2 separate regions of the Homo sapiens genome follow, and region 1 is linked to region 2. The links come from fine-mapping of genetic effects on gene expression. A gene starts in region 2. The other region holds a variant in brackets. All regions are shown on one strand. Distances are between the middles of the regions.

Region 1 (8,000 bases), 40 kb before region 2:
GCCAGGCTTTCACCAAAGGAAAGCACTTAGTTCTTATTGGATTTTTTACTCTGAAGATTTTAGTCACCTATTATGCCATTTAAACAAATTAACAAACAGCTTTATATGATTGCAGCCTCTGAGGCCACTACAGAAAGAAAATGCAAAAAAAAATTAGAGGTGAAATAGAGGAAAAGGGGGCTGTAATGCTAATGATCACTTATTGAGCATTGATGATGTTGCAGTGCTATGCATATTCATAATCTCTAAAATTATACAGAAGAGATTTGTGGTCACTTAGCCAGTGGGGGTTGTGGAGCTAGAAGATAGCAAAACTTGTTAAAGTACACACAGTATGGCATAGGGCACATTTGGATCATACCCATTACAATTCTAGGAGCTAAGTGTTATCACTCCCATTTTATGAATGTGGAGCTGAGGCTCAGAGAGGTTAAGTGATGTTTGCAGAGCTGATGTGCGTCTGTGCTGGGATACAAACCCGGGTCTCTCTGTCTGGAAATCCTGCACATTCTCCATGAACCCATAAATCACTCTACGGGGAGAACAAGTCAGCAGAATCAGCCTCCCTCTGCCCTGGGATAATACCCTGCTGCTAAAGTAGAAGACAGAAATCTAGCAATGGGTCACCCTTACCTGCTGTGATAGCAATGGTTGTGGACAGAATGTAGCCCACACTGGCAATCAAAGAGGAGTCGTACATCTGTGAGGCTTGACTCAAAAACCTTCAACACAAAAGCACTCCAGTCAGTGGGCTGTGGAGACGTTGGAAAGGCTAAGAGCTGACAACAGTAGAGTTTGGTTTGAAATATGAAGATGATACATTTAGGAATGTTCCTTGGGTTTCTAAAAATGCCACCCTCATGTTACAGGACATTGTGTATCCCTAGTCTGGGGCCCATACTTGATTCCCACTCTTCCCCTAGACACACAGCTAAGGCCCATCCCCATTTCCCAATTGAACCATGCCATCATGGTCTCACACCTTTGGCTGCACGGCTCCTGTCACCTGAAATGCCCTTCTCCTCACCCCCCGTATCCCCACCCCACTAAAAAGAGCCATTCCTGCATCTCTTATACCCCTGCCCCCAGAAACTCTTACAGCACTAATCACGTTCTGCCTAGTGTCATAATTATTCTTTTAAACAAAATTTCTTTTTAATTTGAAAATAATGTGATCACTGAAATAAATACAGGAAAAAGAGAAAATTAGAGTCCTTCCTAATCACTCCATCTATGATAAACAATACCCTTGTTTTGGAAGATATTCTTTGCCCTTTCTCTGCATAGTTGCTTACACCATGCTCACCACTCAATTGCTTTTATTTTTTTACTTCGCTTTGTGGCCTAGGCTGGAGTGCAGTGGCAAAATGACAGCTCACCACAGCCTCTAACTACGGGGCTCAAATGCTCCTGCCTCAGCCTCCTGAGTAGCTGGGATTACAGGTGTGAGCCACTGCATGCAGCTTGGCTGTACTAGTTTCTTCACTGGCTGTCCCCCAGCCAGGGCCGTGAATGCCTGAGGGCAGTGAGTGACTACCCTCATCATCTCTGTGTGCTGAGCACCCTCAGTGGGCTGCACTGGCTAGGGAATGAGTAGCTCCTTAGGAGGTGGGCGGTGGCATCTGAGCCATGTTTGTGACACCTGGAGTGCTCAGCACAGGGCCTTTGACTGGCAGGGGCTTCCAGGTGATGACTGGAATTGTTGTAGTGGGACCAAAAATAATAACCAAAATAACAATAGCAAGGCCAATAATCATAGAAGCAGCTCATGTTTACCGGGCATTTCCCTAGAGACATTCTCATAAGAGCTTCATGTGATTCTCTTAGGTAGGGACTGTTGTTCTCATTAGCAGGTGAAGAATCTGTCTTGGAGAAGCTGAGTAGGCGACAGAAGAGCAGAGCAGTGAGGGCATGGGCTGGGGAGCCAGACACCTGGGTTCAGATCTCAGCTCCGCCACTTTCTAGCCTCTTACTCTCTCCGCATCAGTTCCTCGTATGCAAAATGGGGATAATATCCTGTACATCAAAGGAGTGTTGTAAGGACCAAATGAGCTGGTTCCATAAAGCACTGAGAAAAGAGCTGGGCTCACACCGGGCCAGCAGCAGCTGCTCCTATGGTGCCTGGAGGCCATGTAGCTGGTGGACCTTCAGTCTGAGCCTGAGCTTCCCAGGTTGAATCAGCCTTGTGCGCTGCTGAGTCCTGTGTACCTACACAGGTTTTGTCACCTACAAGATTCCTAGAGCCTCTCCTCCCAGGCCCTCTGTTGGGCTCCAGGACTCAAACGCAAACAAGACACAGGCCCTGCCCTCAGGCTGCTGCCTTTTATTTAACTTCATGCTTAGAAAGAGGAGGGGGCACTTTGCCTTCCACTCAGGAAGATTTGGAGGTGATATACTGAAGTCAAGAAATGACAACTTTTCTTTCCAACCCAGCAGACAAGCAGGTGCCTCCTAGGGATGGCCATGCTTCCGAGGCCCCTGAGACGATCATCTGCCCCGGAGAAGATGGGAAGTAAGGCTGCCTCCAACCACAAATTTCTCACATTCTGGCCAGGTGTTGTGGCTCATGCCTGTAATCCCAGTACTTTGGAGGCCAAGGTGGGTGGATCACTTGAGGTTAGGAGTTTGAGACCAGCCTGGCCCACAAAGTGAAATCTCGTCTCTACTAAAAATACAAAAATTAGCCGGGTGTGGTGGCATACACCTGTAGTCCCAGCTACTTGGGAGGCTGAGGCAGGAGAATCGCTTGAACCCCAGAGGCAGAGGTTACAGTGAGCCGAGATGGCTCTACTGCACTCCAGCCTAGGCAACAGAGTGAGACTCTATCTCAAAAAACAAACAAACAAGCAAACAAACAAAAATTATCACATTCTGAGGGAGTGGGGAAAAATCCATCCACTGCTGGCTTCGTATTTCTTTCTTTTTTCTTTTTTAATTCTGTGTCTCAGCTTCCTGAGTAGCTGGGACTACAGGCATGTGCCACCATGCCCAGCTAATTTTATTTTATTTTTTTGTATTTTTAGTAAAGACGGGGTTTCACCATGTTGGCCAGGCTAGTCTCAAACCCCTGGCCTCAAGTGACCCACCCACCTCAGCCTCCCAAAGAGCTGGGATTACAGGCGTGGGTCACTGAGCCTGGCCTGGCTTCGTCTTTTGAGTGGCAGGTGTCCCTCCAGGTGACAACTCAGCAAATTAGCAGCTCCTCTCTCCATGCTGGATGCCAGGCCCTGGGGCATGTTCTGGCCTCCTTGTGGCTTCACAGCATACGTCATCAGGCCCCCAAAAGAGAAGCAGCCCGAATGGCAGGGCCCAGCAGGAAAAGGATTTGTAACTCACGCAGCCTGATAGACGGCGGTTGCCACCATGCACACGAACATCACGTAGAAGATGGGGTAGTCAAGCTGCAGGTTCCCTTGAATGGACAAGACAAGCATCCCAGCCACGGCCTTGACTGTCACCACTGTCATGGAGCCTGCAGATGGGAGACAAGGGCGAATGGGGAGCCTCAGGGAAATGCAGAGAGTTAGGTCCGGAAAGCCAGTCTATAACCCCAAAGGACTTGGGGAGACAGAGGGGAGGGAACAGGAACAGAGTCAAGCCGGCAGTTTGCACAGTGACAGACGCCGTTTGCACTGGGTCTCGTGTGCACCTCTCCCATGGACTCCCATGCTCTGTGCTGACTACATCCTAAAGGAGGGAGGAAAGCCAACCCCCTGAAGGTAATCCTAGACATCACTTCTAAACTGCCAAGCATGGGCAGTAAGTTCAGTTCTCTGAGGCCCGGAGTGCCCAGCACTGTGGCCAAAAGGATCCGAGTGGATCAACGAACTTACCAGTCTCATGGCAACCACAGGAAAAACATGTGTTGGGTAAACAGCTTAGGAATTGTTGGGTTTTTTAGTGCTCAGTCACTTGTATTTTTTGTTGTTGTTGTATTTTTTTTTTTCCTTTTTGTGGACAACAGGGTCTCGCTATATTGCCCAGGCAGGTCTTGAATTCTTGGGCTCAAGCTACCCTCCCATCTCTGCCTCCCTAATAGCTGGGATTACAGGCGTGAGCCTCCGCGCCCAGCTGGTCACTTGTATTTTTAAAAACATTTCTCCAGTGTTTTGGAATGCACACCCCTGTGCATATGTGCAAACATTTCCAATATGTGTGTATCTGTTTTCAAATTAAAGTCATGTGACCCTGAACTTAAATGGTAGGCATGTTATAAAATTTGTACAGGAATATAATTTAAAAGGC[A/G]GAGAAAAAATGATTGAAGTTCTAATATTCTCTCTGTGTACCCAGCGAAGCATCCTGCTCACCTCCCTGTGGAGACCCTTGCTCCACCCTACTGTTCAGAAATGTCTTCTAACTGCAGACTTTCAGACTGCCCTGCCAAACAGGAGTTAGAGACAGCCCCCAAGCGTGGTCCAGGTGAAGCCCCCGGTCCCTGCTGCTGTGCTTTGCTTTCCTATTCTTCAGCTTTGGTTTATTTCGCTTTCTCCTGCCAACACCCCCAACACGCAGTGTCTCTTGGGCTCCTCACCCATTAGGCTACTGTTTCCAAACGTCAGCAACCACTTAGGCACTTGTCATCAGGTAGTCCTTCTTAGTCAGAAGGGGATTGGCCAATGGCCTCAGAACCTTCTGGCCTTCCTACGTAAGAGGAGAGGATGTTTCAGGGCCGTGATCCTTCCCATCCACTTTGAAAACAAAGTCACCGAGGAATGAAGGACTGATTCATGCTATGATGTGGGTGAACCTCAGAATCATCATGCTCAGTGAAAGAAGCCAGTCATATCAGGCCACAAAGCATACGACTTTATTTATGAAGGTGTTCAAAAAGGCAAATCTACAGGGACAGAAGATAGCTTAGTGGTTGCCTGAGGCTGGGAAAAGGGGAACAGGGAGTGACTGCTAATGGGCACAGGGTTTCTTTTGGGGGTGACAAAATGTTCTAAAATTAGATTAGGATGATGGTTTCACAACTCTATGAAATACTAAAAACCACTGAATTGTATACTTTAAACAGGTGAACTTTATGGTATGTAAATTATATCTCAACAGAGCTGTTAAAAAATTAAGGAAACCCTGTCTTCGGTGACAGGTATCTATTTGGTTGATGGCTTGTGGCGGTGGTAGGGCACACAGTAGGAAGGTTGGAAGAAAAATGCACATATTAGCCACCTGTGCACATCTCATTTAACCCCCACTCCCTTCCGTGACTTGGATGTTCTCATAGGCCCCCCCTTTAGAGAAGTGGACAGCGTGGCTTAAGGAGGGAGGGTCATTAGCCTGAGGCCACTCAAGAGCAGCGCGGTAGCAGGCTTCACCAGCCCTGACACCAGCCTGCTCCTCCGCCTCTGTCTGCTTCTCCTCAGGAAGGATGGATTCCCCACAGCTCTATTTAGCTATAAAATTATATGCAGTTCTAGCCAGGTACAGGGCCTCATGCCTGTAATCCTGGCACTTTGGGAGGCCGAGGCAGGGGGATCACTTGAGGCCAGGAGGTCAAGGCTGCAGAGAGCTAAGATTGTACCACTGCACTCCAGCCTGGGTGACAGAGCAAGACTGTCTCAAAAAAAAAAAAAAAGGAAAAATTAATATGCAGTTCTAGCCTCAAGCTGATTCAGGAGCTATCTCTTCCACAGCACCCATCCCTCTAAAAGGAAAAGAAAAAATAGATGACAAAATCTAGTTTTACCTTTGAATCAGAATGAATCCCTAAGCTCTGATAGGTTTTGCATGGATCTTTTCAGGGCTCAATCGCTGGGGCATGCTCTACTACTACCGTCTCTGAAACAAACTAACTCACCTCATCCTCACTCTACTTTATTCTTCCTCATTGGAATTGTTATTGCCCAAACTTACATGACCTATGAATTTGGCTAGTTGTTTAGTGCTATTTTCTCCCTTTAGATTGGAGGCTCCTGGAGCACAGGAGTTTGCCTCCGGTCAGCAGGGACCCAGCTCCCCAGAGCCACTGATGGAGACAGAACAACCTCAGCCAGTCTCAAGCAACTTCTGTGCCCAGCGGCTACAGCTCTGCAAACAAAACCCACATTTCCATTTGGTGCTTCTTGGTGGTGGCAAAACTCAATCATCCAGATGCCAACTTACCAAGTAACGCCACCAAGAGAAGAATCACGACAATGTTGTTGGCGTTCTTCTCCTTGTAGAAGTAGAGCAGCAAGCAGAACAGAATGATCTCCACCAGCTGTGGAAGGCAGCAAGCAGGGGGGTCAGTGGGGACCACAGAAGTAGGCGAGACCGGGAGACCCTGGTGGGCTGGGCCATCACCAGAGTCACAGGGTTGAAAGGGAATGACTGAGCTATGATTCAGCATTTCCCAAACTACTGTTAGACGTTCAGGGGAAAAGGGAAACACAGAGTGAATCTCTCTAATCCCTGGCTAGTACTGAGAAGGAATTCCCTGTTGTCCTGAGGCTGAAGCTTTGAGGGTGACGTGCTGCTCTCATATCCACTCTTTCTTGGAGGGCCAAGATGCATCAGGCTGAGATGGTTTCTTCCCACTCCACTGCTCCATGGGCATCCCCATTAAAACAATGGGTTGGTCCAAGAGGGAGACACTTGTTCACCAACCTATTTGGTCAAGAATGTGAGGCCAGGCACGGTGGCTCACACCTGTAACCCTAGCACTTTGGGAGGCCAAGGCGGGTGGATCACCTGAAGTCAGGAGTTCGAGACCAGCCTGGCCAACATGGTGAAACCCGGTCTCTACTAAAAATACAAAAAAAAAAAAAAAAAAAATTAGCTGGGCGTGGTGGCATCTGCCTATAATCCCAGCTACTCAGGAGGCTGAGGCAGGAGAATTGCTGAGATCACGCCACTGCACTCCATCCTGGGAGACAGAGCGAGGCTCCATCTCAAAAAAATAAATAAATACATAAATAAAGAATATGAGTATATACTCCCTGTGCTCCCAGCCAAGCTTCCAGTGTGAAGCTTCACAGAGTAGAATGAGGAAGGCCTTTGGAGTCAGGGAGACCTGGGCTGGAACTTAGGTCTGCCTCTAAACTAGTCGTGTGGCCTTGGGTAAGTCACTTAACTTCTCTAAACCTTAGTTAACCCTCTGTGGAGTAGGGTTAAGAATTCTTTTTATGGGCCCATAATCATAGCTTACACTAAATGACGTCTCCTTGTACGCCAGGCAGTGTTCTAAGCATTTTATCTACGTTAAACTCACTAAATCAGCACAATAACTCTACGAAGCAGGTACTACCACGATGGCGTGGCACAGAGGAATTTAAACCTGGACAGTCTGGCTCCCAGGCCCATGCACTTTCCTGCTAGGCCACACTGTCTGGTGCTCTATCAGTAGAAACTTACCACTAGACGATGGCAAGTCCGAGTTTGAGAAGCTCCCCCTCCTTGCATCAACAACTGTTCCTTTCTACCCCTTAAAAGCCCAGATATTTGCTAACACTTTCCCAAGAAGTTAAGCCAGCCCTAGCGCCCAGTGCAACTAAAGCAGAAAACTTTGACAACAGCTTAGTCTCATTTGCCTATCCCAAACCCCTTATCAAAGCTGATTTAGTATAAAAAAAACCCAGAAACATTAATGGGCATTTTGAAACATTTAAAACATTCCTTCTAATTAGAGACCATAAAACACAGCTGCTTTCATTTCCCCGTTTCTTCTTTGTCTTTGTTCCAGTGAATCCATATTTTAACGAGTTGTCATTATAGTCAATGCACGATTTTGTACTGGGCTGTTTTTAGTTACCATAAACAATCTTCATGTTTTGTGAAGTTGTCATAATTATCTTTAATTGCTGCAGAATACTTCATCAAGTGGATGTGCTGTCAATCATCAACATTCCCAACCACTGTGCCTGCATTTGAGGGGTCCCAATTCTTCAGCCATTCTCCATGATTTTTTTTTTCTTTTTCTTTTTTTGAGACAGGGTCTCACTGTGTCACTCAGGCTGGAGTGCAGTACTGTGATCATGGCTTACTGCAGCTTTGACCTCCAGGGCTCAAAGCTATCCTCC
Region 2 (8,000 bases):
AAGCCCTTGCCTTGTAGGAGAAGGAGGCCTCGCTTACGGCGCTGGAGCTACTTGTGGGAGGCAGCTGCTGCAGCTTCAGGGCTGCGCTGTGGGATCCGTCCATGGTGGTCTAGTGGCGCATCCCACAGGGCCTGGCCTAGGAGGTGGAGCTGCTGCTAGGCGGGGCCCAGGCCAGATGCCATCTCTCCTTGTGGTGTTCACCTCCCTCCAGCAGCCGTCACTTCCTCATGACAAAAGAATACTTCAAGGCTGTTTTGGCAGATTTACAGCCTTCTCCTCAGCTTCACTCAGAGAAGTGCCAATTTCCGTGGCTCTCCCAGGCAGACAGAGAGGGGTGTGTTTTCCAGTTCTTGCGGTGCTCTAGGGTGGTGGAGAGGAACATTAAAAATGCATGGACAAGGAAACACTGAGCCCAGCTTTGTTATCTGAGAAGAGAATACCATTCAGATAAAACGTAACCGGCCATGACAAGTGAGTCCATTAAAAAAATTCTTCAAAATTCAATTCTAGCAGTTAAAAACAAGTCCTATCATGCCTTTGTCCTCCCCTTAATACAAACCTGACTCATCTATCTCAAAAGCTTTCTCCCTGGCCCTTAATGTTCCCTTTCCTCCTCCACTCTGCTTCCTTCCTCCCATCGCACCCTAACTTAAATCCTCCCTTTTTCCATAGCTCTTGAGCACAAGAAGTAGAATACTAACTTCTCCAGGTCTCAAAAAAAAAAAAAAAACAATTCCACTACCACGAAAAGGGAACTATTTAAGTTTCAGCTTAGGAAGAAAAGAATCAGAAGAAAAGCTACATCCATGGAAAACAGAAGAACTGGCCTGCTACCGAGGATTGGCCTGACACAGGTGAGGTGACACTGGTCTCGGAGGTGGAAAACCTGTGTGACCAGGTAACTCTGCCTCTCAGAGATTCAGTTGCCTCCTCTGTAAAGTGGGGGTAATAATGTGGCCTCAAATAAACCCAGCAATGATGAGAATCCCTACTAATTTCATCGGACTTATATTTTCAGTGCTTCCCGAACTTTTCCTTTTTTTGGAGACAGAATCTCACTCTGTCATCCAAGCTGGAGTGCAGTGGCACAAACATGGCCTCAAGCTGGGCTCAAGCAATCCTCCCTCAGCCTCCCAAGTAGCTGGGACCTCAGACGCGTGCCACAAGGCCTGGCTAATTTTTTTGTAGAGACAGGGTTTCGCCATGTTATCAGGCTGGTCTTGAACTCTTAGGCTCAAGCAGTCCACTTGCCTCAGCCTCCCAAAGTGCTAGGATTACAGGTGTGTGCCACTTCTCAAAATTTGCTACCAAACAGAGAAGAGAAAGTATACTTCTAGTGTCCTAGGAGGCATGGCCAAAACCCTGCTTAAAAGTGTTAGGGTTTTCTTTGAGGACTTTTTATACATTTTTTAGAAATGTATTCTACTGCATAGTCTATGTTTATTTTAATAGAAAAATGTTTTAAATTGCTTTTGATGTGCCATGTGCTACCTGTTTTACCTTTGCCAGGTCATTTAACTTTTCAGCCAGTTTCTCCAGCTGTGAAATATAGATAATAATGTTCCCACTCCACATGGCAGTCATGAGAATTTGATGAAATCATACATGTAAAATGCAGGCATAGCAAATGGTCCATGAATGTGAGCTGCTGTTAAGATTAATTTTATTCTCTCCTGTTTAATTATTTATTTTGTCCATTCCTTTCTCTCTCATGCATTCATCCAACAAATATTTACTGAGGGCTCACTGTGAGCTAAACAATTTCTGCCACTCCCTGAGGCTTCAGAGAGCTGCCTCCTGTGTATCCTGTAGCTTCCAGTTCCTTCTGCTATCCGGCCCTAGGCCCAGGAATTCTGGTTCATGGTGTGGACAGCACATACATATGTGATAAGGGGAACACCATGTCCAGTCCTGGGATACAACAAATGCAGGTTTAGCATAGGGACAGCTACAGAAACCATTTGGCTTGGTTTCACTTTGTCAGAGGGCCTCAGGATGAAATTATTGCTACTACCTGCAGACGAGGTTATATATCCAATATACAGACATGAGATGTAAGCATTCACCGGGTAACTTTATCAGGTAATTCACATCCCATAGCTAGACTTCCCTGCCTGTAAAACCCTATGAATATGTGTTTGCAATCTTGTGGAAAGCATAATTGTTCACTATACTTTCACGTACATGTGAAAAGCATTATTGTGTTACATTTCTGTAAAAATGTTTTAGCATTTGTAATAATCATAAGAGCCTTAAGAGTGGCTCAGGGTTCTTTCTACCTCTGAGAGGCCCCGGGAAGCATTCAACCATGAAGCAGTCATGGAGTTGAGGAGCGCAAACTCCAGTGAGGTGTTTGCGGAATACCCTGTTCAGTTGCTCCCAGCTGAGATCTAGCCCAGAGCCTGACAGTGACTTCTATACATACCAACCAACTGACTAAATGAGATCTAGCCCAGAGCCTGACAGTGACTTGTATACATACCAACCGACTGACTAAATGCAGGCTGGTTAAGCACTGGGTGCACTGTGGCCCCTTCGCAGTCAAGAATGCCTTTCTAAGGCCTAATCAACCACAACTCCAGAGCTTCAACAAGCAGATATACTCAGCCCCACCCACAGGAGGTCAGAGAAAGCCAACAGACCTTAGCGACATGTCAATCAAGGGAGTGGTGGGAACCCAGGCCTCCTAACATCCTTCAGAGTAGTTTGCCCAAGTGCTTTTCTGGTTTTGCTTTTGTTTGTGGTGGTTGGCATTGCTGTGGTTTAATTTTTCTTTTAAAAAGCAGCTTCCCTCTCTGCCTCAGGAACTCGCAGGCCTCTGAAGCATCGCCTGCAAAGATTGAAGGCTCTCCCTCAGCTGGGTGGGAGTCCGGACTGAAAGCCTGGAGGAACCCTTTGCAAGCTGTACTCCCTTATAAGACACATACTTTTCACCTGGTGACTCTCTTTTCCTGATTTCGAAGCATTTCTTCAGGACCTACATATGCCCGAGAGGCAAGCAGTCACCTCTGCGTTGTCAACCACCCCACAATTAGAGCACGTGGTCACTGACCCAAGGAAGGAATGAGAATTCACTAGGTGCTCTGCTTCCATTCCCACCCCGTTTATCTCGATGACGGATTTCACCAATCCCACAGAGCACGTTTTACAAATGAGACAGCCGTGGCTCATAGCGTCTGTATTCGAATTTGCCTCTTTCTGAACAAATCAATAAAACACGCTCTTTCCCACCACCCGACGATCTGGCTTCTGGAGGTGAGCGCCAGTTCCCTGCCAAGCTTCCCGTTCCTCGGCTTTGGCTCACGAGAAGGTTACATTCTTCCGTCCCGTCCCACTGAGCTGGAAACTTACAACTCGAGGAGACAGCACCTCTGTTCCAGAAGCGGGCTTAGACCAAGAACGCCTCCCCTCATCCCACCTGCTAACTCCACCATCTGCTGCCGCCAGGAAGCCCGAGCCGCTCGGCACGAAGAGGAGAAATTCTGGCAAAGTTAACTCCATGTCACTTCCTGGTTTGGTAGAGCCTGGCATCACCTTTAGTAAGGTAGCCCATGCCCCCGCTCCTCTTGGCCTCGATGCAAAACTGGAAAGAACATTCCAAGGCAACGGGACCCAGGTTGGCGAGGCTGGTGACAGTAAGAAGGAAGGGTATGTACACTAGGGGACGTTAGGTGACTTCGCTTTTTCCAGAAAAAAACGAAGGTTAAATTCAATTCCCCTTCCTCCCGGTGTTAATCACTACTCACCGGCGGCGTCTCCTCTAAGGCCCACCTATCAAAACCTTCTGAGAAATGACTCGGACTCTTCGTGCAACCCGGAGGCACAGCCTCCTTCATCCCTTCCCAATTCAGAGCTGCCAAGATGCTGCAGTGTTTTGCTTTCAAAGGTCGCGATTTGATTTGCCAGACTGCCTGCCAGTCAGAAGTTGGCAGGCATTTCGCGCAGGCAAGTGGCTGCGAGGACGGGGAGTAGGCGGGACAGCCCCTGGCAATTGGCTGCGCTGCAAAGCTTGCTTGAAGCATAAGGGAGCGACCTGGGGCTAGAGCTTGGCGCTCACCTGGAGCGGGGACCCCCTAGCGGCCACAGGAAGAATGGTGCGGCGACTCCCCTGCCCCCTCTCCCGCTGTCCCAGAGAGCTTAGGTGGTTGCTCGCCTCCACCTGCCCGGCAGGTGGGCCTGGTTTTAGCAGCCTGCCAGGTGTCCTCCCTTCTTATCCTCATAGCCACCTTCCGGGCTTTGCTCCTGCTGTTCCCCTACCCGACGCTCTCACCAAGTATTCAAATCCAAAACGTCCTTGAAGACCCAGCGCTCCCCAGAGCCCTCGCGAGACTTGGGACCAAACATATCTCTCCTTTCCTGCCCTCCTGGAACACCTGTCGGATACCAAGCCTCCCAGCAATACTGAAGGTCCTGAAACGAGCCCAGCGCTTGGTTAATGTTTCTATAATGTACATAATTATCACGGCCATGATAATTAACATGCGCATGGAGTTTTACAGATGACAAGCTTCTCATCGCTCACACGTTGTCATATACACGCATTTGCTTTCAGATCGTCACAGCCATGAGTGAGACTTGAAGCCCGTTTTACGTATGAAGAAATGTCATTTGGGCCTAGACATCAACAATGAGAAAGAGGCAGTTCTAGTCTCAGATCGTGGGGCAGAGAAAGCTCCTTGGGAACATGGGAGAGGAACGAGTTGGTGCATTGTAGAAACTGCCCGAAGGCCAGCAGGGCTGGTGAGAGATTTTTCTGGGGGCGTGGTTGGGCCTGCGATCTGAGGGACGGGCCAGGGACAGTTTATAAATAACATATTTGGGGGCCGGCGCGGTGGCTCACACCTGTAATCTCAGGACTTTGGGAGGCCAGGAGGATCACTTAAGCCCAGGAGTTTGAGACCAGCCTGGACAATATAGTGGGACCCCATCTCTACAAAAAAATTTAAAAATTAGCCGGGCGTGGTGGCGAGCGCCCGTGGTCCCAGCTACTCAGGAGGCTGAGGCGGGAGGATCGCTTGAACTCGGGAGGCGGAGGTTGCAGCGAGTCGAGATCGCGCCACTGCACTCCAGCTGGGCGACAGAGCAAGACCCTGTCAAAAAAAAAAAAAAAAAAAAAAAAGCTTGGATTTCACCCTAAATTTAAAGGCGAGCCATTGGAGGACTTTAAGCAGGGGAGTGACAAGGTCGCTGAGACCGCCCTGCCCTGAAGCGTGTGAAGAGGGGCTCCTGGAATACTAAGTGGCTGCCCTTGTATAGTCGCCCATGTCAATTTTTTTTTTTTTCTTCTGTTAGAAACAGGGCTTGGGGCCGGGCGTGGTGGCTCACGCCTGTAATCCCAACACTTTGGGAGGCCGAGGCGGGTGGATCACCTGAGGTCAGGAGTTCGAGACCAGCCTGGCCAACGTGGTGAAACCCTGTCTCTACTAAAAATACAAAAAGAATAGCCTGGCGTGGTGGCGAGCGCCGGTAATCCCAGCTACTCAGGAGGCTGAAGCAGGAGCATCGCTTGAACCTGGAGGGCGGAGGTTGCAGTGAGCCAAGATTGCGCCACTGCACTACAGCCTGCTCGACAAAGCGAGACTCTGTCTCAAAAAAAAAAGAAACAGGGCTTGGATGAATGTTAATTCTTTTAGGTATATTCCTTGAAGCAGGATTTTTGAGTGAGCAAAATTCTGAGGCTTTTGGTTTATCACAAGATTTTTGAAGCATGGCCTAGATAAACCTCTTATTAGTTCCCCACCCCGCTACAGGCCCTGATGTAATTAACCTAAGCCCTAAAATTCGGCCGGCTTCTCTGCGGACTTTGAAACGCCTCTAATGATTGGTCAACAACTTTTCACGTTAAAGAAACAGAGGATGCCATTGGCTGGAGTTACCTCGCGGACGGCGGAAGGTGGACTCGCGAATGTTAGGCCTGTGGGTGCCATAGCGACCGGGAGGTTGGGCTGGCCAGATTCAGCTGCCGGGACCGGACCAGGTAGGAAGCAGTTCCGGCGGGGGGACCGGTCCCTGAGGTCGTGGGGAAGAGGACACGGCGCACCATGTCCTCCGCATGGGACGCCCGCGGAGACCCCCCGGCCTCCGGGTGCTTGCGGAATTCCAGGGCTGAGCTAGGTGGAGCCCCGAGGGCGGGAAGAAGCCACCATGGGAGTTGCCCCTGCGTCGGGGCGTGTCCTCGGTGTTTCCACCCGAAAAGTGGTGACAACTGGGGCTTGCCTGCTCCACCGAGCTCCTGCCAGGGGCGTGGGCGTCCGACCCTTCTGGCTCAGGCTCCGCGAGTGCGCAAAAGTTGGGAGGCTTCAGTGCCTGGCAGTGGGTGGACGCCAAAGACCTGATCTCTACTCATAGGTTCACCCCAGCTCAGGGGGTGTCCCCCAGCAAACGACTTCCCTGCTCTGGGCCTCGATTTACCCATCTGTAAAATAAAAGGGTGAGATTGGAACCTGGTGGTCACTAGCCCGCCGCTAAATTTCCTTCCAGCTCCCTGATACACTTTCTCAGCCTATGAAGACTATCGAATGGGTTATTTACCTGAGAGTGCTTTGAAAAAATGTAAGCTGCTTCCAAGATGCTTATAACTGAGTAGATAAAAATCGCCTACAGACGAAACTACTCAGGACATCCAAAAAAATTCTATCTAAAGTAACAGTATACATAGTTTAGTACATGTTTATATACCCTGTACAGTAACATGTATAATGTAAACTGTAATACTTAGCATATATAACGTTTTTTAAAAACACAAGAGATGATAAAATGAAACTGTGCCTATAGTTGTGATCATGTGAGCTGTCCTTGTAGAATCTAACTCCCGCTGGAAATATATTCTGAGCACAGCTGTACACACAATTGCTAAAAGGTGTCTACCTCTAGTATTCATTCATTCATTCATTCCACCAATATTTATGAAGAAAATACTAATTTTAAAAATTCTCAATACTATTATTATTATTTTTGTAGAGACAGGGCCTTGCTATGTTGCCCAGGGTAGTCTTGAACTTCTGTCTCAAGCCATCCTTCCCCCTCAGCCTCTCAAAGTGCTGGGATTACGGGTGTGGGCCACCATGCCTGGCCAATTGAGCAAATACTGTATGTGAGGAAATAGACTGAAGATTCAGAGTTGAACTTTCTACTGGGGAAGATCATAAACAAATAAAGTAATAAACATACAATATAATGTTGGGTAGTGAAAAGTGCTTTGAAAAAGATAAAGCAGAGTAAGGGGCTAGAGAGAGATGGGTTGGTGCTTCTTAAGAGAGGGTGGTCAGGGAAGTCATCCCTAAGAAGGTTTGAGCAGAGAGTCTCGTGAATTTTGTGACAGGACTGCAGGACGATGCCTGGGTCCGGTGAGGAAAGGAGCTCCCCATGCAGCAAGGAGATATGTGGCAAAAGCCAGGGAGGTCCCATGTGGAGAAGAAGATTAGTCTTTAGGTGGTGGGGCACGACAACTGCCTTCAAATTCTTGCAGAATAGTCATATAGAACAGTGGCTTTCAAACCTTTTGACTGTGACTCATGGTAAATGCATTTTATATTGTGACCCAGCATGCACACACGCATATGACAAACTAAAACTTCACAAAAGACTACAGACTATGACTTGCATTTTGAAAATCACCAATGTGGAAGAGAAATGAGACTTACTTTGAGTTGGTTCCAAGGGTGGGAATTAGGACGGATAGAAAAAGAAAAAAAGAGAGAGAGAATCAGCTTTGATACAGGAAGGAACTTTCTAGCAATTAGAACTGTCCAACAGTGAACTTCCCCCAGGAGTTTTTAAACTGTGTTCTGATGAAACCTAGCATTCTGTGAATATTCAAGAGAGTCAAATATTTGCCCCCACCCAGCCATCCCTTATTTGCTTTATATTTTGAAAACTATATGCAATATTGTAACTTCAGAAACCCAACCAGGTAAGGCACGGTGGCTCACTGTAATCCCAGTGCTTTGGGAAGCTGAGGTGAGAAGATCACTTGAGGCTAGGATTTCGAGACCATCCTG

Alleles and levels. Alleles are on the strand shown, and positions count from the first base shown. SD is a standard deviation of normalised expression in the study named.
For the expression in B cells of the gene that starts at base 3,849 in region 2, allele A in region 1 goes with a higher level than allele G (large effect, 1.3 SD a copy in Fairfax 2012).

The links.
Region 1: its variant is fine-mapped to the expression of NIPAL3 in B cells (Fairfax 2012, PIP 0.90).

What each region holds. Positions count from the first base shown.
Region 1 is chr1:24,451,610-24,459,609 of GRCh38, reverse strand. NIPAL3 (NIPA like domain containing 3) reads right to left here. Exons shown (of 12, transcript NM_020448.5): 7 at 6,106-6,202; 8 at 3,337-3,472; 9 at 634-722. Among named protein-coding and RNA genes, the nearest start is that of NIPAL3, 40 kb to the right of the region's middle. RefSeq lists enhancers at 1,500-2,001, 3,285-3,797. The variant A/G (reference allele first, on the strand shown) is at 4,246.
Region 2 is chr1:24,411,651-24,419,650 of GRCh38, reverse strand. It overlaps NIPAL3 (NIPA like domain containing 3), which reads right to left and starts at 3,849. Exons shown (of 12, transcript NM_020448.5): 1 at 3,747-3,849; 2 at 11-360. The coding sequence starts at 103. STPG1 (sperm tail PG-rich repeat containing 1) reads left to right here and starts at 5,869. Exons shown (of 9, transcript NM_001199013.2): 1 at 5,869-5,977. RefSeq lists enhancers at 1-1,067, 6,254-6,373.